Regions from separate parts of the Homo sapiens genome. Here all the other regions are linked to region 3. Evidence: fine-mapped expression QTL. A gene starts in region 3. Each other region holds a variant in brackets. All regions are shown on one strand. Distances are between the middles of the regions.

What was found. PIP is the estimated chance that this variant, and not a neighbour inherited with it, causes the effect.
Region 1: its variant is the best candidate, but not a certain one, in a credible set for the expression of CLIC4 in whole blood (INTERVAL, PIP 0.65).
Region 2: its variant is the best candidate, but not a certain one, in a credible set for the expression of CLIC4 in whole blood (INTERVAL, PIP 0.64).

What each region holds. Positions count from the first base shown.
Region 1 is chr1:24,686,940-24,697,746 of GRCh38, forward strand. No RefSeq gene overlaps it. Among named protein-coding and RNA genes, the nearest start is that of SRRM1, 49 kb to the left of the region's middle. RefSeq lists a silencer at 8,566-8,685. The variant C/G (reference allele first, on the strand shown) is at 3,836.
Region 2 is chr1:24,709,560-24,720,366 of GRCh38, forward strand. No RefSeq gene overlaps it. Among named protein-coding and RNA genes, the nearest start is that of CLIC4, 30 kb to the right of the region's middle. RefSeq lists enhancers at 5,140-6,339, 10,559-10,807. The variant C/T (reference allele first, on the strand shown) is at 6,432.
Region 3 is chr1:24,740,376-24,751,182 of GRCh38, forward strand. CLIC4 (chloride intracellular channel 4) reads left to right here and starts at 5,072. Exons shown (of 6, transcript NM_013943.3): 1 at 5,072-5,250. The coding sequence starts at 5,179. RefSeq lists enhancers at 2,563-3,168, 4,381-4,986, 4,987-5,592 and silencers at 4,674-5,383, 5,484-5,643, 9,105-9,184.

The sequences.
Region 1 (10,807 bases), 53 kb before region 3:
TGATTCTCCAGCCTCAGCCTCTCCAGTAGCTGGGATTACACGCATGTGCCACCATGCCCGGCTAATTTTTTTTGTATTTTTTTAGTAGAGACGGGGTTTTACCATGTTGACCAGGCTGGTCTCAAACTCCTGACCTCAGGTGATCCACCCGCCTCGGCCTCCCAAGGTGCCAGGATTACAGGCATGAGCCACTGTGCCCAGCCTAATTTTTGTGTTTTTAGTAGAGACAGGGTTTTGCCATGTTGGCCAGGTTGGTCTGGTATTCCTGGCCTCAAGTGATCTGCTCTCCTTGGCCTCCCAAAGTGCTGGAATTACAGGCGTGAGCCACCGCGCCTGGCCTTATAGGATATTTTCTAATTTTAAAAAGACATGCTCATTTTTAGAGAATTTGGAAAACATAAAAATCTAGAGAAAAAATTATTGGCAATCCCACCATCCTAATATAATCAAAGACACCTGTCCTAGGTCAAATGTCCTACCTGGCTACACCGAACCCACCCTGAGCTCCTCTCCTCTAATATATAAAATGAGTCAGGTTTTTTCTCTATAAGTACATTCATAGCTACAAATATCAGGATCATACCAGATACACATAATATTTAATATTCTTTTTTTCACTGGGCATAATATGAACTAGAATTATAGCATACTTTTTTTTTTTTTTTTTGAGACGGAGTCTTGCTCTGTCGCCCAGGCTGGAGTGCAGTGGTGCAATCTCGGCTCACTGCAACCTCCACCTCCCGGGTTCAAGTGATTCTCTAGCCTCAGCCTCCCGAGTAGCTGGGATTACAGGAGCGTGCCATGCCCAACTAATTTTTTTTGTATTTTTTAGTAGAGACAGGGTTTCACCATGTTGACCAGGTTGGTCTCGAACTCCTGACCTCAGGTGATCTACCCGCCTCGGCCTCCCAAAGTGCTAGGATTACAGGCGTGAGCCAGCATGCCCAGCCTAATTTTTGTATTTTTAGTAGAGACAGGGTTTTGCCATGTTGGCCAGGTTGGTCTGGAACTCCTGGCCTCAAGTGATCTGCCCGCCTCGGTCTCCCAAAGTGCTGGAATTACAGGCATGAGCCATCACACCCAGCCAGATGCTTCTATTTATTTAAACTTTAACCTCTGTAGGTCAAATGGTAGTGATGGTACCCACCTTCACAGGGTTTTTGTGAGCATTAAATTAGACAAATGAAACACAGGCCCTGTCCCAGCGGAGATCATGGCATGTGGGCAGGGGTCGAGGGTGGGAGCCAGGGGACACTCAGGCAGTGATAAAACAAGGTGACTGGTGACACAGAGAGGGGAGCTGTGCAGTGTAGCAGTGGTCAGCAGTCCTGCAGCCAGCTTCTCAGCCACAGACATACTTACTGTGAGACCTGGGCACATGACTTCACCTCCCTCAGCCTCCTCTGTTTCCTCTTCTGTTAAATGGGCATGGATTCAATAACATCATACAGGTAGAGGGCTTAGCTCATGCCTGGCATGTCACAAGGGCTCCATCAATGACAGTTTTCAGTGTTCCATCAAATCTTACATACGTGCAATTGTAGGATGCACCACCACCTATTAAACCACCACCGCATTCATTGTAAGACGTATCTGACTTTAGAGAGGTCAAAATACAGGGGAAAAAAGTCTTAAATTTCACTATATCCAGTGTCATTATTCAGAAGGGTCTGGGACACTGAGGTAGGGCTCCTGAGTTAGCTCAGGGACACACTCATCCGTCACTCTCAATTTCTTCGTCTCTGTCCCTCTCTCTGGCCTTCTCTTCGTTTTCTGAGCCTTCCACTAGGTGGCACCCGGGCCTGGGTGCCTGCTGTGGAGCTGATGCCCTGAGGTCAGTCCTGCCCCTCCGGCTTCTCCATGCTTTCTTCCCCTTTCCTTTTTCCTCCTCCCCACCTTTTATCCTGCAAGTGGGAGGCTTTGATTCAGTGCTCAGAGGTTCCCTGTAGGATTGCAGAACTTGAAGAACAGCTACAGGGCTCCTGCCGTCCACTGGCTCCAGCCCATCCCAAGCGGGAATTCCTTCCCAGCAAGTCCCCAGCTCTCACTTGCATACCTTCAGTGGCAGGAAACTCACTACTTCATGAGGATCCCGTTCCATCGTGGTCATGCACTTGGGCTCTGAAGACGCTCCCCCGAGGGTCCTAGGGAACCCACTTTCTAGTCCTTCAACAGCAGGCGACTTGGGCCTTTGTCTACTTTGTGTACTGGGGAGTCCCCAAGGCCTGGCACAGGCGAGGCATTGAGTGAATGAATGACAGTCAATGAACACACTCAGTTGTTCTGTGCATCTGTTTCATTACCTGTGAAACAGGGTTAATAATAGTATTTACCTCATAAGGCTGTGAGGATTAAATGAGACAGGACCTCTAAACAGGTTTAGTGCCATGCCTGGTACATAATAAATCCTCAGCAAATATTGTTTTCCTCTTATTTTTTCTCTTCTTTAATAGCTACAGATAGCTCTACTCTTTTTTTCTTTTTTTTTTTGACGTGGAGTTTCGCTCTTGTTGCCCAAGCTAGAGTGCAGTGGTGTGATATTGGCTCACCGCAACCTCCACCTCCCAGGTTCAAGTTATTCTCCTGCCTTAGCCTCCTGAATAGCTGGGATTACAGGCATGTGCCACCATGCCCAGCTAATTTTTGTATTTTTAGTACAGATGGGGTTTCTCCATGTTGCTCAGGCTGGTCTCCAACTCCCGACCTCAGATGATCCGCTGGCCTTGGCCTCCCAAAGTGCTGGGATTACAGGTGTGAGCCACCACACCTGGCTGCCATAGCTCTGCTCTTATTATCTGAAAGATCTGTTTTAGAGCAAAGTGATTCTGATTTTTTTTTTTTTTTTTTTAGACAGGGTCTCATACTGTTGCCCAGGCTTGGAGTACATGGCATGATCACAACTCACTGCAGCCTCGACCTCCTGGGCTCAGGCAATCCTCCCACCTTAGCCTCCCAAGTAGCTGGGACTACAGACGCATGCCACCATGCCTGGCTAATTAAAAAAATTTTTTTGTAGAGACTGGGTTTTTCATGTGGCCCAGGCTGGTCTTGAACTCCTGGGCTCAAGCGATCCACCTGCCTTGGCCTCCCAAAGTGCTGGGATTACAGGCATGAGCCACGGTGCCCGGCCTGATTCTAATTCTTAAAATTTTCACACAGGCTGGGTGCGGTGGCTCCCACCTGTAATTCCAGCACTGAGCCCTTACTGCATCTCATTAATTCTTCCACCTGTGTTCCTGGGCATTCTTCTCCCATTTTATAGATGAAGGAACCAAGGCACACAAAGGTCACATAGGCTGGGCGCGGTGGCTCACGCCTGTAATCCTAGCACTTTAGAAGGCCAAGGCAGGCATATTGCTTGAGCCCAGGAGTTTGAGGCCAGCCTTGGTAACATGGAGAAACCCCATCTCTACAAAAAAATTAGCCAGGCGTGATGGCACGCACCTGTAGTCCCAGCTACTCTGGGAGCTGAGGCAGGAAGATCTCCTGAGCCTGGGAGGCAGAATCTGTCTCAAAAAAAAAGAAAGTCACATAGCTGGTGAGCAATAGAACCAGGATTTAGATCTTGTCTGTCTGACTCCAGAACCCACCCCTTCACCTCTAAGCCTTATTAGTAGAGACAGGGTTTCACCATGTTGACCAGACTGGTCTCGAACTCCTAACCTCATGATCCACCCGCCTCAGCCTCCCAAAGTGCTGGGATTACAGGTGTGAGCCACCACGTGCCTGGCCTTTTTTTTTTTTTTTTTTTGAGATGAAGTCTCACTCTGTCATCCAGGCTGGAGTGCAGTGACACAATCTTGGCTCACTGTGAGCCGGGTGTGGTGGCACGCAC[C/G]TGTAGTCTCAGCTACTCAGGAGGCTGAGGCAGAAGAATCGCTTAAGCCCGGGAGGCGGAGGTTGCAGTGGGCCAAGATCGAGCCACTGCACTCCAGCCTGGGTGACAGAGCTAGACTTCCAGTCAAAAAAAAAAAAGATCCTCATAGGAGCACGAACCCTACTGTGAAGTGTGCATTTGAGAGATCTAGGTTTTGTGCTCCTTATGAGAATCTAATGACTGATGATCTGAGGTGGGAAGATTTCATCCTGAAACCATGCTCCTGCTGCCTGTGGAAAAATTGTCTTCCACAAAACTGGTCCCTGGTGTCAAAAAGGTTGGGGACTGCTGCTCTAGAGGATGTTCTGGGGCCTGTGGGGAATTTTCTGTTCTGAGCCTTCCACGTACTACCCCGATGTCATGGCTATTACATGGCTTCCCAGCATATGTTCCCTGTCTCTCCCACCATCAGAGCCATATTGGGCTCTACTGGAATTCTATGCTAGTGGGTGGGGTTGGTAGCACTCTTCCAGGGTGGGCTCTGATGACCCTGGAGGAGAAGCCATATGCATCCAATCTCTCTAGTCACAGAAATGAACACTACCTCAGTCAGAGCCAAGGATTTGCCAAGAGAAGTCAGTGGAGCTTTTTGAGGGAGAGAAGCTGCTTTTCATTTCTACAGGAGTACTGGAAGAGGTACTCTCTTTCCCTGGACAGTGTGTTAAGGGGATGTGAGAGCTAGAGATGCAGTAGCTCTTATTCCCAAAAATTTCTGTTGAGAATGAAGTCAACATACAGAGGAAGGCAGAGCCCAGAGACTTCAAGAAGAAAAAGAACCTAGGCCAGGCACAGTGGTTCACACCTGCAATCCCAGCACTTTGGGAGGACAAGGCGGGAGGATCGTTTCAGCTTGTGTTCAAGACAAGCCTGGGCAACATTGTGAGACCTCTTCTCTACTAAAAAAAAAAAATCTTTTTTTATTAGCCAGTTACTTGGTCCCAGTTACTTGGGAGTCTGAGATGGGTGGATCACTTTAGCCCAGGAGAATCGCTTGAATAGAGGCTGCAATGAGCCGTGATTGCACCACTGCACTCCAGCCTGGGCAACAGAAGGAGACCCTGTCTCCAAAATAAGAAAAAAAGAAAACAATGAAAGAAGAAATAGAACCTAGTCTGTGGTGTTATTAGTTACTTATTGCTGTGTAACAAATCACCCCCAATTTAGCAGTTTAAAACATTTATTGGGCCAGGCGCAGTGGTTCATGCCTGTAATCCCAGCACTTTGGGAGGCCGAGGCAGGTGGATCACGAGGTTAAGAGTTCAAGACCAGCCTGGCCAACATGGTGAAACCCCGTCTCTACTAAGAATACAAAAATTAGCCGAGCGTGGTGGCAGGCGCCTGTAATTCCAGCTACTCGGGAGGCTGAGGCAGGAGAATTGCTAGAACCCGGGAGGCAGAGGTTACAAGGAGCCAAGATCGGGCTACTGCACTCCAGCCTGGGTGACAGAGCAAGACTCTGTCTTGAAAACAAAAAAAAACAACAATAACAAAAAACATTTATTATCTCCCAGAGTCGCCAGAGTTGAGGATTGGAAATTGGAAGAGATCCCAATTAGTGGTTCTGGCTCAGGGTCTCTAATGTGTTTATAGTTAAGATGTTGGCTAGGGGTGCAGTCATCCACTTCCAAGATGGGGCTGGAGGATCCACTTTGAAGATGGTGCACTCATGTGGCAATTGGCAGGAGGTCTCAGTGCCTCACCAAGCGGGCTCTCCATAGCAGCTAGCTTTCCCCAGAGCGATGATGACGATGACGATGACGATGATGATGATGATGATTGTGTGTGTGATAGAGAGAAGGAAGCCACAGTGCCTTCTACAACCTGCACACTATCATCTTTGCTTTTTTTCTATTCATTAGAAGCAAGTCACTATGTCCAGCCCACAGCCAAGGGAAGCATAACTAGGATTCCTTTTAAAGGAAGTGCCAAAGAACGCATGGACTGATTTTAAACCACACCGTAGTGACGCCACTCGAGCTGCTGGAGGAAGCCCTCACCTGAGGACTCACCTCGAATCCAGTTAATTCCCCTTATGGTGAAGCCAGTTTGACCTAGGTTTTCTAAGTCATACCATTCAAAGAATGATTTTTATCTTCCTCATCTTATCCTCCAGATCTGCCTTGTCTGACTATGCTCCTTTTATGGGCAGTGGTGGGAGCTGGGCCCAGACTCTAGGGGAGGAAGGGTGGACCCTTCTCACCTTCTCAGTCTTTGGTCCTATTTTTTTTCTTTTTTTTTGAAAAGGGGTCTCACTTTGTCACCCAGGCTGGAGTGCAGTGGAGCTATCATGGCTCACTTGCAGCCTCAACCTCCCAGGCTCAGATGATTCTCTCACTTCAGCGTCTCAAGTAGTTGGGACTACAGTCTCACACCACCATATCTGGCTAATTTTTTTGTATTTTTAATATAGATGGGTTTTCGCCATGTTGCCCAGGCTGGTCTCGAATTCTTGGGCTCAAGCAATCCTCCTGCCTCAGTCTCCCCAAGTGCTGGCATTATAGGCGTAAGCCACCACATTTGGCCTTGGTCCTTTTTTTTTGTTTTTTTTTTTTGTTTGTTTTTGTTTTTGAGATGGAATCTCACTCTGTTGCCCAGGCTGGAGTGCAGTGGTGCGATCTCGGCTCACTGCAAGCTCCCCCTCCTGGGTTCACGCCATTCTCCTGCCTCAGCCTCCGAGTAGCTGGGACTACAGGTGCCCACCGCCACTCCTGGCTAATTTTTTGTATTTTTAGTAGAGACGGGGTTTAACCGTGTAAGCCAGGATGGTCTCAATCTCCTGACCTCGTGATCTGCCCACTCGGCCTCCCAAAGTGCTGTGATTACAGGTGTGAGCCACCAAGCCCGGCCTAATTTTTGTATTTTTAGTAGAGACGGGGTTCCACCATGTTGGCCAGGCTGGTCTCGAACTCCTGAACTCAGGTGGTCTGCCCACCTTGGCCTTCCAAAGTGCTGGATTACAGGTGTGAGCCACCATGCTCAGCCTTGGTCCTTTATACTACAAGCCTGGGCAACATAGTGGGTACACACTACTGTCCCATGGCCACCAGTGATGCTGGGTACAGGAAAACCACATTGTTCTATGGACTCCTGACCATGGTACTCATCCTTCCACTGGCCACTCCTGCTAAGACATGGCTTTTCCATCCTGTAATTGCCCTTAAACATTGGGCAACAATTTCCAGGTCTCTCTGGGTCAGTCCCTTCGGGGGAAGGAAGACAGAGGAATCATGTGGCCAGGTGGGAAGAGCTCTGGGCCAGCTTCCACTCAGCCTTGCTGTGTGACCTTGAGGAAGTCCCTGCTCCTCTCTGGGCCACAGTTTCCTCCTTTTTGAATGCAGAAGGTTGTATTAACATATCTGAGGATGCTTTGGGGTTTTCTTAGTTCACTTCTGTCCAGAGAAGATGATGAAATTTTAGGAGCAGCCTCACTTCCAACACACCGGGTCTTGCGTGGTCATTCATACCCCGGCAGAGAAAAAGCTGCATACTTCATGCCCTTTGCCCTTCACCATCTCATCTGATCCTCCCAGCAGCCAGCAAGGACACGGGGCAAGGCACTGGAGGCAACAGAGGCTCAGCAGCAAGACAGGGTACGTGCAGAGAGCTGCGGGACAGACGTGGCCTCACCAGCAGGACCCGTGATTAAACAGCAGCTGTGGTTCACTAAGTGCTTTCTGCTTATTATGTGCCAAGTACTTCACATGTGGCTGCTTTGTGTCATTCTCACATCAAACCTGATGGGTGGTTACTATAATTATCTCCTTTTACAGATAAGGAAACTGAAGCCCAGAGGGGTGGAGTAACTAGTCCAGCAAAAGTAAGCCATGTAACTGGGATTCAAATTCAGCTTGAACATCTCAGCACTCATCTGTTTTCGATCACATAACACTCCCTCTAGGCATTCACAGGAGCTCAAGGATAGGAGTAGGGAGGGGAAAGCTAGGAGTCCGAAGACTTGAGGGGCCAGGCATGGTGGCATGCACCTGTAATCCCAGCATTTTAGGAGGCTGAGGTGGGAGGATGGCTTGAGCCCAAGAGATCAAGGTTGCAGTGAGCCGTGATCGTGCCACTGCACTCCAGCCTGGGAAACAGAGAAAGACTATGTCTTGGAAATGGTAGAGGACCTTTAAAAAATAAAGAATAAAAAAGTACAAAACCAAAGACTTGCGCAGATGCGGTGGCTCACGCCTGTAATCCCAGCACATCAAGAGGTCGAGGCGAATGGATCACCTGAGGTCAGGAGTTTGAGACCAGCCTGGCCAACCTTGCGAAACCTCGTCTCTACTAAGAATACCAAAATTTGTCAGTTGCGGTGGCAGGCGCAGTGGCGGGCGCCTGTAATCCCAGCTACTTGGGAGGCTGAGGCAGGAGAATCGCTTGAACTCGGGAGGCAGAGGTTGCAGTGAGCCAAGATCACACCATTGCCATTGAACTCCAGCCTAAGCAACAAGAGCGAGATTCCGTCTCAAAACAAAGCAAAACAAAACAAAAACAAAGACTTAGGTTCACGAACAAACTCTGAACACTTACTAATTCTAAGGCCAGGGTAAATCTTTCATCTTGCTCAGCCTCAGTTTCCTTATCTGTAAAATGGGGATCATAATTTGTCATCCAAATTGTGAGGATTGGGTAAAAACATTTTTAATAAGGGCATGTATGTGAGCATCCCCCATGTATGGCAAAGAAGTTGTCTAAATTTAAGAGGTTGTTGTTTTTCTTAATCTCAGAGCAGGAGCCAGGGCAGGAAGTAGGCAGGCTGATTAGGGCGGCCAAGTGTCCCTGCCCAAGAGTGACTACTTCCGTCCCTGGTGTTCTTCATTAAGTCCCCAGGAAAGGAGGAGGGTGGGCCGGAAGAAAGGGCAAAGCTCTAGGTCCTTATCTAGAACTCTGCCTCCATGCAAGAGCCCTCCAAGGGAAGAGAAGTTCTGGATTATCACCACTGAGCTCCAAGCATGCCAGAGGGCTCAGCAGGGAGAAAGTCTGTCAGCACCTGACCCAGCAACAGCTGGGGAGAGGCCTGGATGGGTAGGTTGCATGCCTCCCCCTCAGCCTGTGTCATGGCCCTGCCCTGGCCTCATGGTCCAGGACTCAGTCCCCATAGCCTGTCCTACCAAGGGGAACACCAGACTCCAGCACTGCGATGCACAAATGCCAAACCCTCCCAAGGGGCAGCTTTGGCAAGTGACTGGAACTGGAGTCAGGAGGCGCCGGCTCTTGTTCTGGTTTTGTCCCTTCTCCTCGCTGGGTATCAGCATCCCTACTGTGGAATAAGGGACATTCCCTCGAGGGCATTTACATAGTGTGGATCTGGCGTACCACTTGCTACCCCTGCCACAAAGTGTTGTTCCTTGTGCCTTCTTCCTGGGCTGCTGGAGAAAAGGCTCATGCCACATGTGCTGCCCTCTCTGGGTGTGGTCAACAGCTCCCCAGCCCAGGACACTCAAGTGTGACACCCAGATGACACTCAAGTCATCTGTGTCATTTTCTGTTTCTGGTGCTTCCTGAATTCCAGTTCTTTCTTGTTCCCAAGTAGATGGAGAGCTCCCTGAGGACAAGCAACTGGGGTCTCCTTACCCCTCCCCAAGAACTAGGGCTTAGCACAGAGTAGACCCTCAGGGCTGGTTAGCAGCTGTGCTGTTGGGCCATCCTTGAGGCCCTTGATGAACATGGCCTCCATCACCAGTGCCTGTTGCAGCGTTCTGGCCACACAGGGAGGAACCCCAGTTTCTGCTCCTGGTTCTGCTCAACTCAGTCTGCAGGACTTTAGGCAAGGCTCTGTCAAAAGCATCTGTGGTTTTTCAAAATGTGCCAGGTGGAGGCCAGGCGTGAAGTGGATAATCCTCAGGGGCAGATGGGGACTGGTACTCCAGCCCTCACCCCACCATCCAGAGCTGCTCCATTCTTAGCTTTTAGCTTTTACACACTGGGATTCCACAATAGTGACTTCGCAGCTTCACAGAGGTAAAATTGACATACAATAAACTGACATATTGACATAAAATAAACTGACACATTGAGCATGTAAAATATACTTTTTTTTTTTTTTTTTAAAGACAGAGTCACACTCTGTTGCCCAGGCTAGAGTTCAGTGGCGCAATCTCTGCTCACTGCAGCCTCTGCCTCCTGGGTTCAAGTGATTCTCCAGCCTCAGCCTCCGGAGCAGCTGGGATTACAGGCATCCGCCACCATACCTGGCTAATTTATTTGTTTTTTTGTTTGTTTTTGTTTTAGAGACGGAGTTTCGCTCTGTCGCCCGGCTGGAGTGCAGTGGCACAATCTCAGCTCACTGCAACCTCCGCCTCCTGGTATCCGGAATTGGTTCTTTCCGGTGGGTTCTTGCTCTGCTGACTTCCAAGAATGAAGCCGCGGACCCTTGCAGTGAGTGTTACAATTCTTAAAGATGGTGTGTCCAGAGTTTGCTCCTTCAGATGTTCAGATGTGTCTGGAGTTTCTTCCTGCCAGTGGGTTCGTGGTCTTGCTGACTTCAGAAGTGAAGCCGCAGACCTTTGCAGTGAGTGTTACAGCTCTTAAAGGTGGTGTTTCCAGAGGCGTTTGTTCCTTCCAGTGGGTTCATGATCCCGCTGACTTCAGGAGCGAAGCTACAGACCCTCACAGTGAGTGTTACAGCTTTTAAAGGTAGACTGGATCCAAAGACTAAGCAGCAGCAAGATTTATTGCAAAGAGCAAAAAAACAAATCTTCTACAGCAAGGAGAGAAACCCAAACAGGTTACCGCTGGGAGCTCAGGTGGCCAGCTTTTATTCCATTACTTGGCCTCGCCCATGTCCTGATGATTGGTCCATTTTACAGAGCACTGATTGGTCCATTTTACAGAGTGCTGATTGGTCCATTTTTACAGAGTGCTGATTGGTGTGTTTTTACAGAGTGCTGATTGGTGCGTTTACAAACCGTTGGCCAGACACAGAGCTCTGAT
Region 2 (10,807 bases), 31 kb before region 3:
TCATATTTTAATAGAGGCGGGGTTTCACCAGGTTGGCCAGGCTGGTCTCAAACTCCTGACCTCAGGTGATCCACCCGCCTCGGCCTCCCAAAGTGCTGGGATTACAGGCGTGAGCCACCGCACCTGGCCAAAATGATGTTGCTTTAAGCCACTAAGTTTCAGCTGATTCATTTTGCTGCAATGGTTTTAACTGAAACAGCAGACAAGCCATGAAGCCCATTACAGTGGGGTGAGATATTAGAGCCGATTTTTCATAAAATCTTAAAGCATAAAAGGGCCTCAGTGAGCTGTAACACTTGTTAGATGACAGAGATCAACATCTGGATGAGCTTGATGTTAGATAAAGTCTCTGCTGTGACCTTGAGGAGTTGGACCAGGGACTGTCCAAGTCAGAGAGAGAAAGGTGTCAACTATGACTTGAATATTTCCAGCTTAGGCAGCTTGTCCTCTATGACAGCATGAGTTGAAATTGGAGGAGACAAAGAGGAAGAACAGATTTGGAGGAAAATGACAAGACCAATTAGAACACACTGTTGCATTTGATTTTTGGGGATTTTTTGTTGTTGTTTTTCTTTTCTTTTCTTTTTTGAGACAAGATCTCACTCTGTCACCCAGGTTGGAGTACAGTGGCACGATCATGACTCACTGCAGCCTCAACCTCCTGGGCTCAAGCCATGCTCCCACCTCAGCTTCCTGAGTAGCTGGGACCACAGGCGAGCGCCACCACACCCAGCCAATTTTTGTATTTTTTGTAGAAATGGGATCTTGCTGTGTTGCTTAGGCTGGTCTCAAACTCCTGGGCTCAAGCAATCCTCCCACCTTGGCCTCCCAAAGTGCTGGGATTATAGGCATGAGCCACTGTACCCGGTTACATTTGTAAAATGTTTTCTGTAAATGCCAAAGTCTGCTGATGGATAATAAAAAAGAAGAATTCTTGCTAGAAGTTTCGGCCCATGTTCTCTTTTTTTTTTTAAGATGGAGTTTCGCTCTTTTGCCTAGGCTGGAGTGCAGTGGTGCAATCTTGGCACATTGCAACCTCCACCTTCTGGTTTCAAGCTATTCTCCTGCCTCAGCCTCCTGAGTAGCTGGGATTACAGGCGCCTGCCACCACGCCCGGCTAATTTTTGTATTTTTTTTTTTTTGAGACGAATTTTTACTCTTGTTGCCTAGGCTGGAGTGCAATGGCGTGATCTCGGCTCACCACAACTTCCACCTCCCCAGTTTAAGTGATTCTCCTGCCTCAGCATCCCAAGTAGCTGGAATTACAGGCATTTGCCACCATGCTTGGCTAATTTTTGTATTTTTAGTAGAGATGGGGTTTCTCCATGTTGGTCAGGCTGGTCTCGAATTCCCGACCTCAGGTGATCCGCCCACCTCAGCCTCCCAAAGTGCTGGGATTACAGGTGTGAGCCACCACGCCCAGTCCCCCCATCTTTTTTTTTTTTTTTTTTTGAGACAGACTCTCACTCTGTCACCTAGGCTGGAGTGCAGTGGCATGATCTTGGCTCACTGCAACCTCCACCTCACGGGTTCAAGCGATTCTTCTGCCTCAGCCTCCTGAGTAGCTGGGACTACAGGCATGTGCCACCACACCTGGCTAATTTTTGTGTTTTTAGTAGAGATGGGGTTTCACTATATTGGCCAGGCTGGTCTCAAACTCCTGACCTCGTGATCCACCCACCTCTGCCTCCCAAAGTGTTGGGATTACAGGCGTGAGCCTCTGCGCCCGGCCTCGGCCCATGTTCTTACAGTAAAAGCTTTGAGGAGTCTGAAACCCAAATTCCATGTATTCATATCCTTGTTCATGCATTCATGTATTCATTCAATTTGCTCACTTAGCCAGCCATTCAGCAGGTAGAGTTATGCTTAAGAGAGGACCCTAGAACCAGACTACCTAGGTTCAAAATCCAGCTCTATCTCTTACTAGGTGCATGGCCTTGGGCAAGTGACGTCATCTCTTTTTCTTTATCTCCAAAGCGGGGATGATAATAACAGTACCAATATTATTGTAAAGATTAAAAGAATGAATACCTGGAAAATTCAGACCACTGGCTGTGGTGGCTCATACCTATAGTCCCAGCTACTTGGGAGGCTGAAGCAGGAAAATCGCTTAAGCCCAGGAGTTCAAGGCTGCAGTGAGCTATGATTGTGTCACGGCACTCTGGCCTGGGTGACAGAGAGAGACCCTGTCTCTATAAAACAAAATCAGGCCGGGCATAGTGGCTCACACCTGTAATCCCAGCACTTTGGGAGGCCAAGGCAGGCAGATCACCTGTTCAAGAGCAGCCTGGCCAACATGATGAAATCTCCTTTCTACTAAAAATACAAAAAGTAGCCGGGTATGGTGGCACATGCCTGTAATTCCAGCTACTCCGGAGGTTGAGGCAGGAGAATCGCTTGAACCCAGGAGGCAGAGGTTCCATGAGCCAAGATCATGCCACTGCACTCCAGCCTGGGAGACAGAGCGAGACTCCATCTCAAAAAGCAAAACAAAACAAAACAAAAATTCAGATCAATGCTTGGAACATAAAAACCTATAGATATTACTTATTAATACTCAATACTTTTTTTTTTTTTTTTTGAGATGGAGTCTTGTTGCTCTGTCATCCCGGCTGGAGTTGCAGTGGCACGATTTTGGCTCACTGCAACCTCCCCTCCGCCTCCCAGGTTCAAGCAATTCTCCTGCCTCAGCCTCCCAAGTAGCTGGGACTACAGGCAAGCGCCACCACACCCGGCTAATTTTTGTAATTTTTTTTTTTTTGAGACGGAGTCTCGCTCTGTCGCCCAGGCTGGAGTGCAGTGGCGTGATCTTGGCTCACTGCAACCTCCACCTCCTGGGTTCAAGCAATTCTCTTCCTCAGCCTCCCGAGTAGCTGGGACTACAGGCGCCCACCACCATGCCCAGCTAATTTTTGTATTTTTATTAGAGATGGGGTTTCACCATGTTGGTCCGGCTGCTCTCGAACTTCTGATCTCATGATCCACCCACCTAGGCCTCCCGAAGTGCTGGGATTACAGGCGTGAGCCACCGCACCTGGCTAATTTTTGTAATTTTTTTTTAGTAGAGACAGGTTTCACCATGTTGGCCAGGCTGGTCTCGAACTCCTGACCTCAAGTGATCTGCCTGCCTCAGCCTCCCAAAGTGCTGGGAATACAGGTGTGAGCCACTGTGCCTGGCCTCAATAAATAATGTTTTGAGCACCTACTATGCAGCTGGCTCCATGCTGCACTGAGGATACAGTAGTGCAGAAGACAGAGAGAAGACCTGCTCCATGACACTGACATTCTAGTCCTTATTCAGCACCAAGATCCTAAGTTTCCTTGGTTTTCTTTCGGATGTCTTGTCCCATTTGATTTTTAGAAAGACCCCATGAGGTTAGAGCAACCTTACCCCATTTGACAGAGGTGGAAACTGAGGCCCAGACAGGAGAACCGATGTCCTTTTTGCACAGTGCCTCAGCCGGCTGCCATGAATATGTGTGTCCGTTTGACAAAGGCATGGGGATAGGAGTGGTCAGGAGGCTCCATGTCTCCCATCAGCCAGCTGTTCTTCCTCTGCCTGGAGCCCTTCCAGTGACCCAGCTCTCAAATGTGGCCAACCTCTTGCCCCTGAGCGGGATCTCTGTAGCCCTCTCATGGCAGAGGTCCTGGAGGTGCGAAGTAGGGGTACCGTGCCCAGGCTGCCCCTCTCCCCACTTGGTCTCCTACGTGCAGTGGACATTTTTCCACTTGGTGTGACCACACAAAAACTCCACCCAACATCATCTTCATGGATGCCTAAAATTCCACCATCCATGATTCATTCTTTTAGGTTGAACAACTGCTCCCAGGAATGTCTGAAATTCCCTGGAATCAGTTGCTAACACCTTAGTGAGCTAAAAACTGGCCTTACAGATAATCATCTACCTTCTGTAGACAACTCTGGACCAGAAGAAGAAGTGACTTGCCCAAGGACACGTAACCTTGGGCAGTCAGTCAGTGGCAAGCCAGGGCCAGAGGCTGGCCTTGCTCACACATTTTCCTGGGACAGGAGGAACAGAGCCATATACGATGTTCCCTTGAATCACATCTACTTTGCAGCCTGCAGAGAGCCTCCCCACCCAGAGCCCACTTGATTCAGGCAATCCCTATGAGCTGGGCATGAGTCCCTCTCCCAGGCACAGTGGCTCACATAGACATGGGGATGCCACAGGGACCTAGCCCAAACGTCCATTGCTGGATCCCTGGAGTGAGGTTTCTGGTCTATCCAAGGCCTAGTTTAGCTCCTCCTTCCGTTCTACCGGCAGCCCCAGATTCTTCCACTGCCTTCCTTTTTTTTTTTTTTCAGTAAGCTCAAGTTGGTTTCTCTTGCTTCTAAAGAACTCTAATTGAAATTCCCACTTTACAGATAAGGAGACCAAGATGTGAAGAGGAAAGGTGAATGCTAAGGTGGAGCCAGGCCTGCAACCCAGGTCTCCTATCTCCTGGCCCAGGCTTTTGCCTCCTGCCACGTTGCCTACTGTGAGCAGTTGGGTCCCGAGGAAAGAGAAGAGCAGAGAGGAGTGTGAGTGCATAAGCCTGAAGATAGAGGGTACAGTGGTTCATTGAGAGATTTTGGAGTCAGCAGATCTGATCTTACACTTACCTGTTATGAAGATTTTGACAAGTAATTTCATCTTCTCAGAGCCTAACTTCCCAGCTATAACATAAGAAAAAGAGGACCTTCTTATAGTAGACACAGACCCAACAGGAGCAGAGTGGGTGAGTAGAGCACTGGGTGGATTTTAGCCTTCACATACTCATCTATGGCTGGGTACCTTTGTGCAGTGAACAATCTGGGCAACAGTACATGACAGCCCTGAGAATAATGATAATACCTGCCTTACATGGATGTTATAAAAACTAAATGAGATAAGGTATGTGAAGTTCTGGGCACAGTGCTTAACCACTTAATAAGTCTTCAATAAACAGTAGCTAAGTATTTTGACACCATCACCCCAGGCTCCGTCTGGAAGGCTCTGGAAGGCAGTCTGTGGTGAAATGGCAAGTCCCAAACTCCCCACTTTCTTACCACCAACTCCCAAACCTCATAATTTTCCTGGATGGCCTCAGTGTCCTGCCTCTCCCTCCAGAGTTCTGTGGGGTTGGCTGGACCACCAGGAACAGAGTTCTGGCATTTTCTATCACATCACAGCTTTCAGTTTGGTAAAAGCCCCCGATATATCAGGGCCCAACTGGCAAGTCCCTCCTGCTCCAAAGTTTTGAAGGTTCCAGGGTCAAGCCTTGGCCCCCAGCCTCCTCCCTCAGACCTGAGGCCGAGCATAGTATATTCAGGGGCCTAGCTGCAGCAGGTCCTGAAACCTGCTACAGCAGTCCAAGCCCCCTCAGTCCTCCTCTTTCATTTCTGAGCAGGCCCAAGCACCCAGCACCAAGAATGGCTGGACTTAGGGACTCTGGGAGAGCCACGTGTGCCAGGCTAGTGCCTGCCAGCTCTTAGGCTGATCTTACAATGGCTCCATTCACCAGGGAGAGGAGCTGGCCTGCCTGGAGCCCACGGGGTGATGTTCCAGGCCCCAGGGGGATGGGGTGGGAGGTTAGAAACTAAGAAAGCGGTTGTTAAGGCTGGGAGGGGTGAAGGTGCCCAGCCTCCACCACTACCAGCACCTTATGACAAGGTGACCACCTCACAACTGGGACCATGAGAGATCAGATTCTCTGGGGCCCAGTGGGGGTGAGTAAGTGCGGGGGCAGATGGAGGGAAAGAGTTAGTCATGGGCATTGCGGGGCAGGGAGGCTGGGCCCTTAGCCCACGCTCTTGCTGGCATCTGAAGGCCCGTAGCCAGGGGGTGACGTGGTCTTGGTCCTTGAAGCAGCCCTTCCAGTAACAACTGGGGCATCCCAGCCAGGCAGCCTTTGCCTCTCCCCCTCCTCTCCATGCCTGCTACCCCAGGTCTCCAGGATCTCTCAAAGAGATTTTCATCTACAAACATCTCTGTCTCCATCATCTCTCCCTTCTTCACTCACAAAGCCCAAGTTGAGTCCAAACTGCTCTGTCCTCAAATTAAAGCCCTCACTGACTCCTCACTACCTAAAAGACCATGACCTCAGTGTTCAGGCTGTCATCTTGCCCACTCAGCATCCATTCCTTTTCCATATGAGCTCCAAGTCTCTCTATTTCTGGGGAAGCACCTGGGCCCCCACTCTCAGTCCATATGTTTCGAGTGGAGCTCAGGCCTAGAATTAGACATGTGACCCCAACTTGATCAATCCGATTGTTCCACCTCCACTCCCACCACCTCTATACAGCAATTGGTTTAGACATAGTCACGTGACCTAAACCAGTCCAATGAAATTCAAGTTCAGAACCTGTGTATAAATGTTTGGAGAAATGGGCCGGGCGCTGTGGCTCACGCATATAATCCCAGCACTTTGGAAGGCCAAGGCGGATGGAT[C/T]ACCTGAGGTCAGGACTTTGAGACCAGCCTGGCCAACATGGTGAAACCTTGTCTCTACTTAAAATACAAAAAATTACCTGGGCGTGGTGGTACGCACCTGTAATCCCAGATACTCCGGAGGCTGAGGCAGGAGAATTGCTTGAACCCGGGAGGCAGAGGTTGCAGTGAACCGAGATCACGCCATTGCACTCCAGACTGAGGGACAAGAGCAAGACTTCATTTCAAAATAAATAAATAAATAAATATCTGGAGAAATGAATCTTTCTTTGCCCTGGGCTTGGAGCCTCCATTTGGAAAGGGCCTGCTTCAGAGTGAAGCCAATGCAAGGAGAAGCAGAGAGGAGCAGAGAAGAAGAGAGAGAGGCCAAGTCTTGAAAGCATTTATTTGAGCTATACCTGAAGCAAATACACTAATATACTCTATTGTTTTTTCTTTTTAACTTTCATTCTCAAAGGAGGTGAATGTTCAGTTTTTTGAGTCAACGGATTTTCTTTTTTCCTAAGCTTCTTGGAATTGCGTTTTCTGTCTCTCGCAACCCAGGAGTTCTGACCAACAGAAAGGCCCTCCTACTCTGACCTTGAACCACTTCTGCAGTCTCATCGGCCCTGCCTGGGGCATATGGAACTCTCCACTCCCCTGAATGCCCCATGTGCCTTGTGATTCTCTGCACTTGCTCCTGCTAGGCCCTCTGTCTGGGGTGGATTCACTTTTCCTGTTTTGAACTTGCTCAGCTTTTTTTTTTTTGAGACAGAGTCTTGCTCTGTCGCCCAGGTTGGAGTGCAGTGGCGCAATCTCAGCTCACTACAACCTCCGCTTCCCGGGTTCAAGTGATTTTCCTGCCTCAGCCTCCCAAGTAGCTGGGACTACAGGCATGCACCACCATGCCCGGCTAATTTTTGTATTTTTGGTAGAGATGGGGTTTCACCATGCTGGTGAGGGTGGTCTCAAACTTGAATCACTCAGGTGATCCACTCGCCTCGGCCTCCCAAAGCGCTAGGATTACAGGCGTGAGCCACCGTGCCAGGCCTTGCTCAGTTCTTAAAGGTCCAGTTCAAATGCCAGTTCCTCCATGGAGCCTTCCTCAACTGCTTCCCAGGGAGAATTTACTATTTGCACCTGTCTTCAGCACTATAGAGCCATTATTTCACTGTATCATAGTGATTCACTTGCCCATCCATCTCCCCCACTGGATTGTTGAGCTTCATGAACTGTGTGTGCTTTCTTTCTCCTTTCTCAATACCTAGTACCTGACCTGGCACAGAGTAGGCGCTCGGAATCCTGTGTCCAGTGACTTGAATATCCATCAGACTGGATGTTAGAGCTGTGGGGATGTGGCACTCACCCTGGAACTACTACTAGTTGCTATGCAGCCCATTCCCATCTCTGTGAACAACCTGAATTGTCCACCTTCCTTCAATCTAAAAATTCTACTCATCCATCAAGGAGCTCAATGCCCTGAGTATGTGAGGAGAGGGCTGCTTTGGAGTTGGACAGACTTGAGTTCAAGTCCTGGCTCTTCCATGTGGTACTCATGTGACGTAGGCCAAGTCATATAACTTTCTTGAGCTTCAGTTTCCATAAAATGGCAAACACATGGTGCTCATTATGTGCTGTGCCCATATCCTAATACTTCTAGTTCTTTTATCCTCCCTATGAGGTGTAGGTACCAGTCTCGTCCTCTTCCCAGTGATAAAGAGACTGAGGTCCAGAGAGGTTAAGTAAGCAAGGCCATGACTAGGACAGAGCCTTGGACAGACCTAGTGGCCGGGTAGGGGATGGAACCCAGGCAGCCTCTGCTCCAAGTCAATGCTCTTACCCCTCTACTGTCCTGCCTCTTGAAAAATGAGGATAGTACTAGAACCTTCTTCTTGGGGTACTTGTGAAATTTCACCTTCACATAATGTGTGTGGAGGGTACAGTAGAGCTGAAGCCCTTGCTGTTGGCACCGCGGTGTTCTCAGCCTAGTGGAGTCTAATCTTTCCAAAGAATCCTGGACTTTAGGGTCAAGCTGGAGGGAGGGGGGAGGTGGCTAGTCTAGCACAGCATCCACTTGGCTGTGGCTGCTTGGCAGAAGGACCCTGCTCATAATGCCCATTTGTCCAGACCGTAGTTCAATGACTTCTGCATTCTCTGCACGTACACCCTAGAAGGGATGGGATGGATGGGGGATGGCACTGGCTCTAGCCTGGCCAGGGAAAGCCAGCTGGGAATTAAGAGGTCTTGGGCAGCAGGACAACCCTGTGTCGAGAAACCTCAACTCTGCCACTGCCTAGAAGTGAGACCCTGGGTAAATCACACAACCTCCCTGGGGCTCAGTTCCTTCATCTGTGAAATGCGGACCTTAATGGTACCTCCTTCATCGGGTGGTGTGAGGAAGAAGATGTATTTTGCAAGTATGTTGTGGATATTCAGTAAAAGACAGTTAATGATCAGCCTCATGCTACTGTTTGGTTAGCCAGGCTGGCTGGGGTTCAATCTTGGCTCTACCATTTCCTAGTCATGTGATCTCAACTAAGTTACTTAACTTCTTGGCTCAGTTCCTCCCTGGTAAATTGGGAACAATCAAAAAACAATAATACAATAGCAGCTATGTGCCCCTCACAAAAAAGCGATCCCCAATTTTTAGTGATCCCAAGCAGCTCCCTGCCCCTCCCCAAGGCGTCAGTTTCCCTATTTGTTCAGGGAATTTTTTTTTTTCTTCTTGAGACGGAGTTTCACTCTGTTGCCCAGGCTGGAGTGCAGTGGCATGATCTCAGCTCACTGTAACCTCCGCTTCCCAGGTTCAAGCGATTCTCATGCCTCAGCCTCCCAAGTAGCTGAGATTACAGGTGTGCGCCACCACACCTGGCTACTTTTTGTATTTTTAGCAGAGATGGGGTTTCAGCATGTTGGCCAGGCTGGTCTTGAACTCCTCACCTCAAGTGATCTGCCTACCTCGACTTCCTAAAGTGCTGGGATTACAGGCGTGAGCCACCGTGCCTGGCCGGAACTTTTTTTAAAATAGAGACAGGGTTGGGCTCTGTCACCAGGATGGAATGCAGTGGTGCAATCATAGCTCCTGGGCTCAAGGAATCTTTCCGCCTCAATCTCCTGAGTGGCTAGGACTACAGGCATGTACCACCACACCCAGCTGATTTTAATTTTTCTTGGTAGAGATAGGGGTCTCACCATGTTGCCCAGGCTGGTCTTGAACTCTTGGCCTCAAGGATATTCCTGCCTCAAGGATACTTCCACCTCAGCCTTCCAAAGCATGAGGATGACAGGCATGAGCCACTGCACCCAGCCTTGTTCATGGAAATTTCAGCTTCACCGTAAGCGCCATGCCCTAACAGATTCCCAGGCTCCGCTTCATGTACTGAATTGGTCCCCCTGCGGGAGATGCCCGATGCCCTTTCTTGGGGCAGCTGCTGTGTCCACCTTGTTCACTGTGTCCCCAGCACCTGACCTGGGCCTGCACATGGTGGGCCCTTAGCAAATGTTTATTGAATTTATGTTTTTCATGTAACAAACATGAACTTAGTGCTTCTCATGTGCTAGGCACTCCTTTGCGTGCTTTACAGATATAAATGCATTTATTCTTTGGCAATCTTTTTTTTTTGAGACGGAGTTTCGCTCTTGTTGCCCAGGCTGGAGTGCAATGGCACAATCTCGGCTCACTGCAACCTCCTCCTCCTGGCTTCAAGCAATTCTTCTGCCTTAGCCTCCCGAGTAGCTGGGATTACAGGCATGTGCCTCCACGCCTGGCTAATTTTGTATTTTTAGTAGAGACGGGGTTTTTCCATGTTGGTCAGGCTGGTCTCAAACTCCCGACCTCAGGTGATCCGCCCGCCTTGACCTCCCAAAGTGCTGAGATTACAGGCGTGAGCCACCACCCCCGGCCTTACTCTTCAGCAATCTTGTAGAGAATGACTATTATTATCCCCATCGTTATTTTACAGATGAGGCAGTTGAGGCAGAGTTAAAGTAACATGCCTAGGATTCTAACCCAAGACCTCTGGCTTCAGGGTTCATCCTCTGGCCTTCTCTGACCCTGTCCCCTCTATTCAGGAGTTGGGGTACCCTGAGTACCCACACATCCACTGGTATCCATGGCTCATCTCTTGGGATGGGGTTCTCCCATCCTCTGGGCGAGAGCAGGGGCCGGCTGTGGGATGTGGGGAACCGAGTCATGGGCCTGGCCTCCAGGAGACAGTCAGCCAACACCTGCCAGTCCGCCAAGTCCCAAAACAGCCTGGGCGCAGCTCACATCCGGCTGTTGTTCCGGAGCCAGAGAGGAGAACAGGAAAGGCCAAGAGGCCTGGCTCCAAGCTGACTCATTGGGAGGTGGGACCAGGACAGGAAGGGCAAGGGGTCGCCAACTCCATCCTCCCTCCCTT
Region 3 (10,807 bases):
TCGGCTCACTGCAACCTCTGCCTCCTGGGTTCAAGCGATTCTCCTGCCTCAGCCTCCCGAGCAGCTGGAATTACAGGTGCCTGCCACCAAGCCCAGCTACTTTTTGTATTTTTAGTAGAAATGGGGTTTCACCATGTTGGCCAGTCTGGTCTCGAGCTCCTGGCCTCAAGTGATCCACCTGCCTCGGCCTCCCTAAGTGCTGGGATTACAGGCTTGAGCCACCGTGCCTGGCCCTCAGTTTCCTTATTTGTAAAATGGGGACAATGAAAATTATGCCTTGCAATGCTGGGGATGGTGGCTCATGCCTGTAATCCCAGCACTTTGGGAGGCCGAGGCGGGTGGATCACTTAATTAAGGTCAGGAGTTTGAGACCAGTCTGGCCAACATGGCAAAACCCCGTCTCTACTAAAAGTACAAAAATTAGCCAGGTGTGGTGGCACATGCCTGTAATCCCAGCTACTTGAGAGGCTGGGACATGAGAATCACTTGAACCTGGGAGGTGGAGGTTGCAGTGAGATGAGATTGTGCCACTACACTTCAACCTGGGCGACAGAGTGAGACTCCGTCTCAAAAAAAATAAAAATAAATATAAATAAATAAATAAATAAATCAAGCCTTGCAAGACCATGATGAATAAATATGATTGGATATGAAAGCACCCAGCTAGGTGTCTGGCATGCAGTGTGAGAGCTCAGTGACCGGTCAAGAATATGGACAGATGGGAATAATACCAACAGCTAGTGTCTACAGAGCACTTACAATCCAAGCTCTTAACATAGACTAATTTATCAATGATCCTATTAAATATTAATAGGTACTAATTTTAGATCCATGTTTACAGACGAGAAAATGGTACTAATTTAGATCCATTTTTACTGATGAGAAAATGAAGCACAGAGAGGTTAAGTAAGTATCCTGAGTTAGTAAATAACAGAAGCAGGATTGGAACCCAGGCAGTCTGGCCCCAGAGTCCATGTGCATAGCAGCTCATTCTGCTGCTGAAATTGCAGAACTTTGGGCTGAGACAGTCAGCGAGCAGCACCACAGAGTTAGAAGTGGGAGGAGGAAAGTGTCATCAAGGGAGGCTTACTGGAGGAAAACCTGACCCCCTGTGTAGGGGCAGTCATAAACACAAACCACCTGGCTTCCCAGACTGGAAGAGCGTGACAATCCAAATGTCATGTCAGGGGTACATGAAACCATAGGATAAACATGGTACAGTCACTCACTCCATAAGCTATTTTTTTTTTTTTTTGAGACAGAGTTTCGCTCTTGTTGTCCAGGCTGGAGTGCAATGGCGCAATCTCGGCTTACTGCAACCTCTGCCTCCCAGGTTCAAGCGATTCTCCTGCCTCAGCCTCCCAAGTAGCTGGGATTGCAGGCATGCACCACCATGCCTGGCTAATTTTTTGTATTTTTAGTGGAGACGGGGTTTCTCCATGTTGGTCAGGCTGGTCTCGAACTCCCGACCTCAGGTGATCCATCCGCCTTGGCCTCCCAAAATCCTGGGATTATAGGCGTGAGCCACTGCGCCCGGCCCACTCCATAAATTTTTATTGTGTACCATGAGCTGTCCTCTGAGCCAGGAATATAGCCATAAACAAAACCAAACAAAAAATCCCTGCCCTTATGGCATTTATGTTCTAGTGGGAGAAGACAGACAATAAGCAGATAAATAGGTAGATATGTATCAGAGGGTTGTAAGTGTTATGAAGAGAGATAAAGTGGAGGGTGGAGTGAAAGATAGCAACTTGCAACGTTGCATAGGGTGGTATTTGGGGAGAGCGCTCTGAGAAGATGACATTTGAGCAAAGAGCCAAAGGAAGTAAGGGAGTGGGAGTTGCAGAAATTCTGGGGGAAGAATGTTCCAGAGAGGGGGAAGAGCAAATGCAAAGGCCCTGAGGCCACAGTGTGCTTCGCATATCCAAGGACTAGAAAGGAGGCCAGTGAAGCTGGGGTGGAGAGCACAGGGGAGAATGGTAGGAGATGAGGTCAGAGGGGTGTGTGTGGGAGGAGACAACATGTCTCCACCCATCTTAAAGATTTCTGTGTGCTATAAAAACAAGCCTGAGTAAAGAATGTAAAGCAGGCATGCAATTCAAAATTCGAAGAGGAGACTTGACTGCTATGTGGTTAGGGGGCCTCCCCTGCATAAACATCCTCTTTCCCTTTCACCCACTCCCAGGACTGACTGCCCATCCATGGGAGCCATATGAGGGCGGAACTTGGGAAACTGTAGGTGTGACTGAGACTACGTCTAAGCACAGGCTCTGGGTCTGAGCCTCTTCCTGGGGGGCTTCCTGTTGGGTAGGAGGAGCCCAGGAGATCATCACCACCTCAGGGCTCTGTGGAGAATGCCCCTGGCTTCCTCCTAGCTAAGATCTCTGTTTAGTCAATGAAGCCTAAAGGGCCCTGGTCTGTTCCTCCTTCCATACCCTGGTGCTGTGAGGCCAGTTGGAGCCTGTGAAGGGCAAGTCACCACCGGGAATATTTGCTGCCTCTAACTCAAATTCTTTTTTTTTGAGATGGATTTCGCTCTGTCGCCCAGGCTGGAGTACAGTGGCGTGATCTCGGCTCACAGCCACCTTTGCCTCCCCGGTTCAAGCGATTCTCCTGCCTCAGCCTCCCGAGTAGCTAGGATTACAGGCATGTGCCACCACACCCGGCTAATTTTTGTATTTTTAGTAAAGATGGGGTTTCGCCATGCTGGCCAGGCTGGTCTCGAACTCCTGACCTCAGGTGATCCACTCGCCTCGGTCTCCCAACGTGTTGGGATTACAGGCATGAGCCACTGTGCCCGGCCTCAATTTGATCAATTCTCAGGTACATTGAGTTTCTGCTGAATTGTTTTTTGGCTTAGATCTGCTTTGAACTGATTCACCATTTGGTTCCTTTTTGGTAGGGCAGAGAGGGTGGATTCTGGAAGGAAACTTTGCTTCAGTTCATGATTCTATGAAAAATTAACACGGTTCAGTCCAGAGTCTAGTCAGTCACTTCAGGATTTTCATGGTTCAAGCCCCCATCTAAGGGGAGCCTCCTGGAATTTATTTATTTATTTTCAACGAACTAGCCGGGCATAGAGAGAGTAGAATATGATGCCACATTCTAGCCTGCAGGGGTGGTAGGGACAGAATAAGTCTCAATGCAGTTAACAGCCATACTGACGGAGCAGCACATATGGTAAGGCAAGAATCAGTAATTAGCCCCACCCACTTCTAGATAATGAAACTGAGGCTTAGGGGTTTTAAGGACACTGCCTTGTCAGATTTGAACTTAAACAGTCAGACTACAGAGCACGTGTTCCTGACCACTGGGATACACTGGCTCTTTCACAGAGCCTCTGTGAGAAAATTTGAGCAACTTACTTTGGGCTGGCAGAGGAAGAAATTGCAAGTTTCACTGTATTTTCATGCCTACGTACAATTTGTTCAAACATTCTGGTATGTGCTAGGCACCGAGGATATGGAGACAAACCTCCCATGTCTGGGCCTCCTGGAACTCACTATTTATCCCAACCTGGGAAGTTGGGAGGAGTAGCTGTGAGTCAAGTATTATGGAAAGTCAGAAAAGGGCACAAGTAATTGTTTCCAGAGGAGGTGAAACTTGCCCCAGGCACTCAACAGCAGCAAACTAGGACCAGGTGCCTACAATCTCAAGGCAAGCACAGCTCTTGCCCTCGGGGGCTTAAATCCCAGGGCAGTTTAACTGGTTTGCGGACCACCTACTTCAGAATTGTCCTGGTGCTTGCTAAGATGTGGATTTCTCTTTTTCCCAGAGGATCTGGGAAACACAAAAAGCGGGGCTGCGTGTAGCACCTAGGTGATTCTGATGCACACTCAAATTTGACAGGTGAGCCGGGGGGAAGAAATGGGTGTGGGCAGTGGGGAACAAGATGGACAACGACTTGGAAGTCCTTAGTGGCCTGCAGGCACTGAGATTGCAGTTCAAGATCTTGAGCTTTGGGAGTTGTTACTCTCCAAGGGCTAGCTCAGAGCCTGAAACACAGTAAGGTTTCATAAATATTTGTGAATATGCGCCCGGCGCGGTGGCTCACGCCTGTAATCCCAGCACTTTGGGAGGCCGAGGCGGGCGGATCACGAGGTCAGGAGATCGAGACCATCCTGACTAACACGGTGAAACCCCGTCTCTACTAAAAATACAAAAATTAGCCGGGCGCGGTGGCGGGTGCCTGTAGTCCCAGCTACTTGGGAGGCTGAGGCAGGAGAATGGCGTGAACCCGGGGCAGAGTTTGCAGTGAGCCGAGATCGCGCCACTGCACTCCAGCCTAGGCGATAGAGCCAGACTCCGTCTCAAAAAAAAAAAAAAAAAAAATATATATATATATATATATATTTGTGAATATGCTGGCTGCCAAGATCGAAACGATCAGGAGCGTCAAAGGGAAAAACGAAGTCAGAGGCAGAAGAAAAAGGTGTTCCCCAGGCGATGAAAACTTTCCAGTAAGTTGTCTTGGAAAAGGCAACTCCGCGTAATAGAGGGACTTGGGGAGGTAGCCGCTGCGGGAAAGGGCGATGAGTCCTGGGGTGCTGCAGCGGGGGAGTGGGTAGGAGGCGCCTCCTAGCTTCCCCAGGGCGGCCGAGGCATGAGGTCACCTGGCACAGCAACAGCAGCAGCTGCGGAGGACGCGCAGGCGCTGCGGCGGGAGGCAGTGTCAGGCTCGGGCCCCTGGGGAATTCCTCCCCTCCTTTCCCCCCCGCACCAGTCCCCTAGAGAGGCGTACCCGGGTCCCGCCCGCCAGAGCCTGAGCTTTGTACCGCCCACCAAGGCCACGCCCCCTACCAGCTGTGGGGCGCCGCAGAGGTCCTTTCTTCGGCTCCGGAGCGGTCCCTCCGCCTTCCCCGCTCGAGGCCACGCCCCCGTGCTCCTGCCGCCTTATTTTCCCCGGAGAGTCCCGAGGCGCCGCGCCTTGGCCCTGCCTACAGCCCGAGGCCCCGCCCCCGGCGCCCCTCCCAGCCGTTTGAAGCGGCTCGGGCTGCGGCTGGCTCAGAGTGGCGCGGGGGGCGTGGGGCGGTGCTGAGGAGCTGAAGCCGTGGCCAGCTCGACGCCGGACAGTCCAGCGAGCAGCACGGCGGGAACCGGCAGCCGGAGCAGTCCCGGAGCAGAAGCAGCAGCAGCAGCAGCAGCCCTCGCCGTTCGCGGAGCGCAGCCGAGCCGGCCATGGCGTTGTCGATGCCGCTGAATGGGCTGAAGGAGGAGGACAAAGAGCCCCTCATCGAGCTCTTCGTCAAGGTGAGCGCTCGCCTCGCGGTCCCGCCCGGCAGATCCCCCGGCTCCCTCCCGGCTGCGGGGAGCGGCGTCCCGGGGCTCTCCTGAGGCGCCCCCGCTCGGCGCCAGCACCCGTCCCGCTGCGGGCACCCGCGCCCCCGGCCCATTGTCTGGGGGCCGCCCGCGCCTTCCCGCCTCCGAGGGCCCGTCGAGGGGTCCGGGTTGGGGACCCGGGCGGCGGCCACCGTCTCCAGCGCGTAGGCATCGGCGGACGCCAGACCAGCGTCCCGCGCCCGGGTGGGTCGGGAAGAGCCCACGGGCGGGACTTGCCTGCCCCGGGGCCCCAGCGCCGGGCGCGCGCGGGTCCTGTCACCACCCCCCGCCCGGGCGCCGGGGCCCGGCCCCACCCGCTCCCCAGCGCTCCGGTCCGCCGCCCGGAGCCCGAACTGCGGCCCGCCGCCCGATGAGCTTTCAAACGAACTTCTTTGAACGCGTTTTTGAAAAAGCATTTGCTCCCCACTGGTCTGAAACGGAAACTTTAATTTTCGATGCAATCTTAAACAAATTTACCAAAGAGCAGGTGCTCTTGGACCTTCGGAAAAGACCGAGATTCCCAACTTGTGTTTTTCTGTCTTGGGCATTTACTGGCTTTCTCGTTTCTCAAGCGCGGAGTGTTCTGTATGATGCAACATTTTGGCTTCTCCCCCCGGCGTTGCTGCTTCGGGAAGGATTGTGTGTGCCCTTTTGTTTTGAAAGAAATTGAGGGAGAGAATTCTTAACTTGCTTGGGCTTTAAAGGGTTGGTTTTCCCTTGTGTCTTCAGCTTTCATGTGTGGAATTTATTTGCTTACACATACTACCCCTCTTCCTTTGCTTTTCTCTTTAATACTTTTTATTTTAGCAAAGGAGAGAGTCGAAGTTATAAACATCTGGATCCAGCTCCTTCCCTCAAAACTTAAAAAAAACACTTTGAGCTTCTTCCAGCCACTTAAAAAGCCAGGCTCATTCAGAGCTAGGCAACATACCGGAAAGTAAATGGTCATCTAGAACTATTGGGTTCTTTTTTTTCCCCGAGTTTTTACTTTAAAGAAAGGACATTTCAGGATGTGTTTAAGAGATAGAGAAGGGCTGGGCGCGGTGGCTCATGCCTGTAATCGCAGCACTTTCGGAGGCCGAGGTGGGAGGATTACTTGAGTCCAGCCTGAACAAGATGGCGAAACCCTGTCTCTACAAAAAAATTCAAAAATTAGCTGGGAGCGATGTTACGCGCCTGTACTACTCTGGAGGCTGCGGTGGGAGAACTGCTTGAGCCCGGGAGGTCGAGGCTGCAGTGAGCCACGTCGCACCACTGCATTCCAGCCTGGGCGACAGAGCAAGACCCTGTCTCAAACAAAAGAGATGGAGAGAAGAAATAATCTGCATTTACCTCTGCAGTCTTCAGTAATGACTGGAACAGTGTTTGCCTTAGGATTTTCTTTCAATTGTCAATTTTCGATTTTTTTTTTTTTTTTTTTTTTGGTCCAGGGAACTGAAACAGCAGACAGGTATAGAACCCCCAAAATATCAAAGCGTTTCGGTTACTTTGAGTGGCAGATATAGTACTTTGAGATGCGTAGAATGTAGGAAGGAACCTGAAATACAAGAAAGGAAGGAGGCCGGGCGCGGTGGCTCACGCCTGTAATCCCAGCACTTTGGGAGGCTGAGGTGGGCAGATCACGAGGTCAGGAGATCGAGACCATCCTGGCCAACATGGTGAAACCCCATCTCTACTAAAAATACAAAAATTAGCTGGGCGTGGTGGCGCGTGCCTGTAGTCCCAGCTACTCGGGAGGCTGAGGCAGGAGAATTGCTTGAACCCGGGAGGCAGAGGTTGTGGTGTGCGGAGATTGCGCCACTGTACTCCAGCCTGGGCAACAGAGTAAGACTCCATCTCAAAAAAAAAAAAAAAAAAGAAAGAAAGGAAGGGTGGTGGGTGGAAAACAGCATGGAGAAGGGAAACAAGTGGGCCAGAGATGAGTTAAAAAAAATTTTTACTGAGTGAGGAATAGGAAGGAATTTCCATAAACTCAAAAAAAGTGCATCCATGAATAATCTGTAAAACATGATACTTAACGGTGAAACTTTAGAACAGTATTAAACTTAGAATAAGCTACTATCGGGCCGGGTGAGGTGACTCACACCTGTAGCATTTTGGGATGCCGAGATGGGGAGATCACTTGAGGCCAGGAGTTCGAGACCAGCCTGGCCAACATGGTGAAACCCTGTCTCTACTAAAAATAGAAAAATTAGCCAGGCATGGTGGTGGGCCCAGCTATTCGGGAGGCTGAGGCATGAGAATCGCTTGAACCGGGGAGGCAAAGGTTGGAGTGAGCCAAGATCAAGTCACTGCACTCCAGCCTGGGCGACAGAGTGAGACTTCGTCTCAAAAAAAAAAAAAAAAAGATAAAGCTATTATCAGTTATGGCTCTATTCAGTATTCTATTATTCTATTGGAGGAGCTAATCAAAGAAGACAAGAAAAATTAAGTATCTGAATTAGGAAGAGATCAGTGATTAATGCCCTGCTTACTATTAATTTCATCTTTCAGTTAGAATAGCAGAGGGGCGTGTGCAGTTTTCCAAACTTGAGTCACTTGCATCCCCTTTCTGTTTTTCATATTTGTGTTGAGAACCACTGAAAATCATCCTTCCTACCACTAGTTGTAAGCCTTTCTCATTGGGCTTGGTGGCAGAGAATCAGGGTTCAAGTCACAGTTCTTTACTCCTTGGTTGGGTGACCCTAGGCAGTTTGTTTTCACTCTTTAAGCCTTGTTTGTCTCATTTGTGAAATAAGAAATGTTTTCTGCTACCCAGTGATTCAACATAGGCAAACTTTGCACTGATACAGATCAGGTTTTTTGTTTTTTTTTTTTTTTTTTTTTTTAATGAGATGGTGTCTCGCTCTGTCACCCTGGCTGCTGGAGTGCAGTGGCGCGATCTCGGCTCACTGCACCCTCTGCCTCCCAGGTTGAAGTGATTCTTCTGCCTTTGCCTTCCGAGGAGCGCATGCACCACTACGCCTGGCTGATTTTTGTATTTTAGAAGAGACTGGGTTTTACCATGTTGGCCAGGCTGGTCTCAAACTCCTGACCTTAAGTGATCTGCCTGCCTTGGCCTCCCAAAGTGCTGGGATTACAGGCTTGAGCCTCTGTGCTTGGCCCCTAGACCAGTTTGTTTGAAAGGGGAAAAAAGGACAGGTAAAATGTGGTAAAGGGCATTCTTGATCTCTTCTCAAAACCTACGTGTGGGAAATGCAAATGGGGGAAATACCCTTGTAAATATAGTTATTTTGAAAGCAGTGGACCAGGTGTGGTGGCACACTCCTGTAATCCCAGCCTTTTGGGAGGCGGAGGGGGGTGGATCACTTGATGTTGAGACCAGCCTGGGCAACATGGCGAAACCGCATTTCTACTAAAAATACAAAAATTAGCCACGCATAGTGGTGCATGGCTGTAATCCCAGCTACTCGGGAGACTGAGGCAGGAGAATTGCTTGAACCTGGGAGGCGGTGGTTGCAGTGAGCCGAGATAGTGCCACTGCACCCCAGCCTGGGTGACAGAGCAAGACTCCATCTCAAAAAATAAAAATTAAAAAAAAAAAAAAGAAAGTAGAGAGGGTGCAGAGGCTGTGGTTGTCCAGAGTGGTATGTTGAACAGTGTTAACCTGCCAAGAGGTATCTGAGTTTGTAAAAGAAAACTATTTACAGTTGAAGCACATAGCATGTATGGAAATTAGAAATTTGGTGGTGGCGCTAGGGGAAAGGCCAAGAGATGTAATGGGGCTTTGAGCCTACCTGTCTAGCTAGCACTGAGCTTCACATTTAAGAGAGAGAGATGAGCACCTTCTCAAATAGTATGACTGAACTCACAGCTGCATTTCCTTCCTTGTGAGTAGTTTTTGGAGTTGTCTGCCTGTGAGCCCATTAACTCCCTGTCATCTATATAACAGCAGGATGGTTTTTTTGGTTTGTTTTTGTTTTGTTTTACCCTCAACATCTGGAGGATAGATAGGATGCCCTCTCAAAAGTAAAAAAGGCAGCTGGGCTGTGGTGGCTCACGCCTGTAATCCTAGCACTGTAGGAGGCCAAGGAGGATGAATCTTTTGAGCGCAGGAGTTCTAGACCAGCCTGGGCAACATGGCGAGACCCTGTCTCTACAAAAACTATTAAAAAAATTGCCAGGCACAGTGGCTCACGCCTGTAATCCCAGTACTTTGGGAGGCTGAGGCAGGCGGATCTCTTGAGCCTAGGAGTTCGAGACCAGCCTGGGCAACGTAGCAAAACCCCATCTCTACAAAAAATATAAAAAATTAGCTGGGTGTGGTGATACATGCCTGTGGTCCCAGCTGAGGTGGGAGGATTCCTTTAGCCTGGGAGGCAGAGGTTGGCTGTGAGCCGTGATCGTGCCACTGCACTCCAGCTTGGGTGAGACCCTATCTCTAAATAAATAAGTAAGTAACTAAGCTGGGCCTGGTGGCCCACGCCTGCAGCCCTAGCCCTAGAGGCTGCGGGTGGGAGGATTGTTTGAGCCCAGGAGTTCGAGGCTGCAGTGAGCTTATGATCATGTACCTGCACTCCAATCTGGGTGACAGAACAAGACCCTGTCTCGGGAGGAAAACAACAAAGGCTTATAATGGCAATCATCCTCAACAGTGGAGATGCTCTCTACCCCACTCAGGAGCCTGGTAGGTGTATATATTTCCAGCTGGGAACCACCAACAGATACGGTATATTTGAGACCTTTTAGCAAGGGCATAAGGTCCCTTGTAATCTGGGTTTCTTTCTTTCTTTCTTTCTTTCTTTTTTTTTTTTTTTTTAAGACGGAGTTTCGCTCTTGTTACCCCTCAGCCTCCCGAGTGGCTGGGACTACAGGTGTGCACCACCACACCTGGCTAATTTTGTATTTTTAGTAGAGACAAGGTTTCTCCATGTTGGTCAGGCTTGTCTCGAACTCCTGACCTCAGGTGATCAGCCTGCCTTGGCCTCCAAAAGTGCTGGGATTACAGGCGTGAGCCACCGAGCCTGGCCTACTGCCTGAGTTTCTAATCCAATATGTCCAGTTACTAATTGTGTATCCCAGGATACATCACTTAAACCTGTCTGTGCCACATCTGCACAGTTGGGATATTAGTAGAACAGTCCTATGGGATAAATTAATATATGTAGTATGCAACAATCTTAGAACAATGTCTAGTACACAGTAAGCAAATAAATGCTAGTTGTGTATAATTTTGTATGAATATATATTTATAGGCAGATCTCCCCTACTAGATAGACAGTAAATTCCTTGAGGATAGGGTGTGCATATGGTTCAGAGTGCCTGCAACTTAAGAGGATGCCAAATGTTTGAAATGAGATTGTGCCCTTCTTTCAGAGAATTCTGTTGTTGAGCATTTTGTTGTCAATGTATGTCTCTACCATGCTTTGGAATTAGAAACCACTTACTGAGATCCCGATGGTTGGAGCATCAAAGCATGGTTCTTCATCCTGATTTCTCTAGCCTCCAGTCTCCAAACCCAGTGTAATTTTATGTACTCACCTCTTTT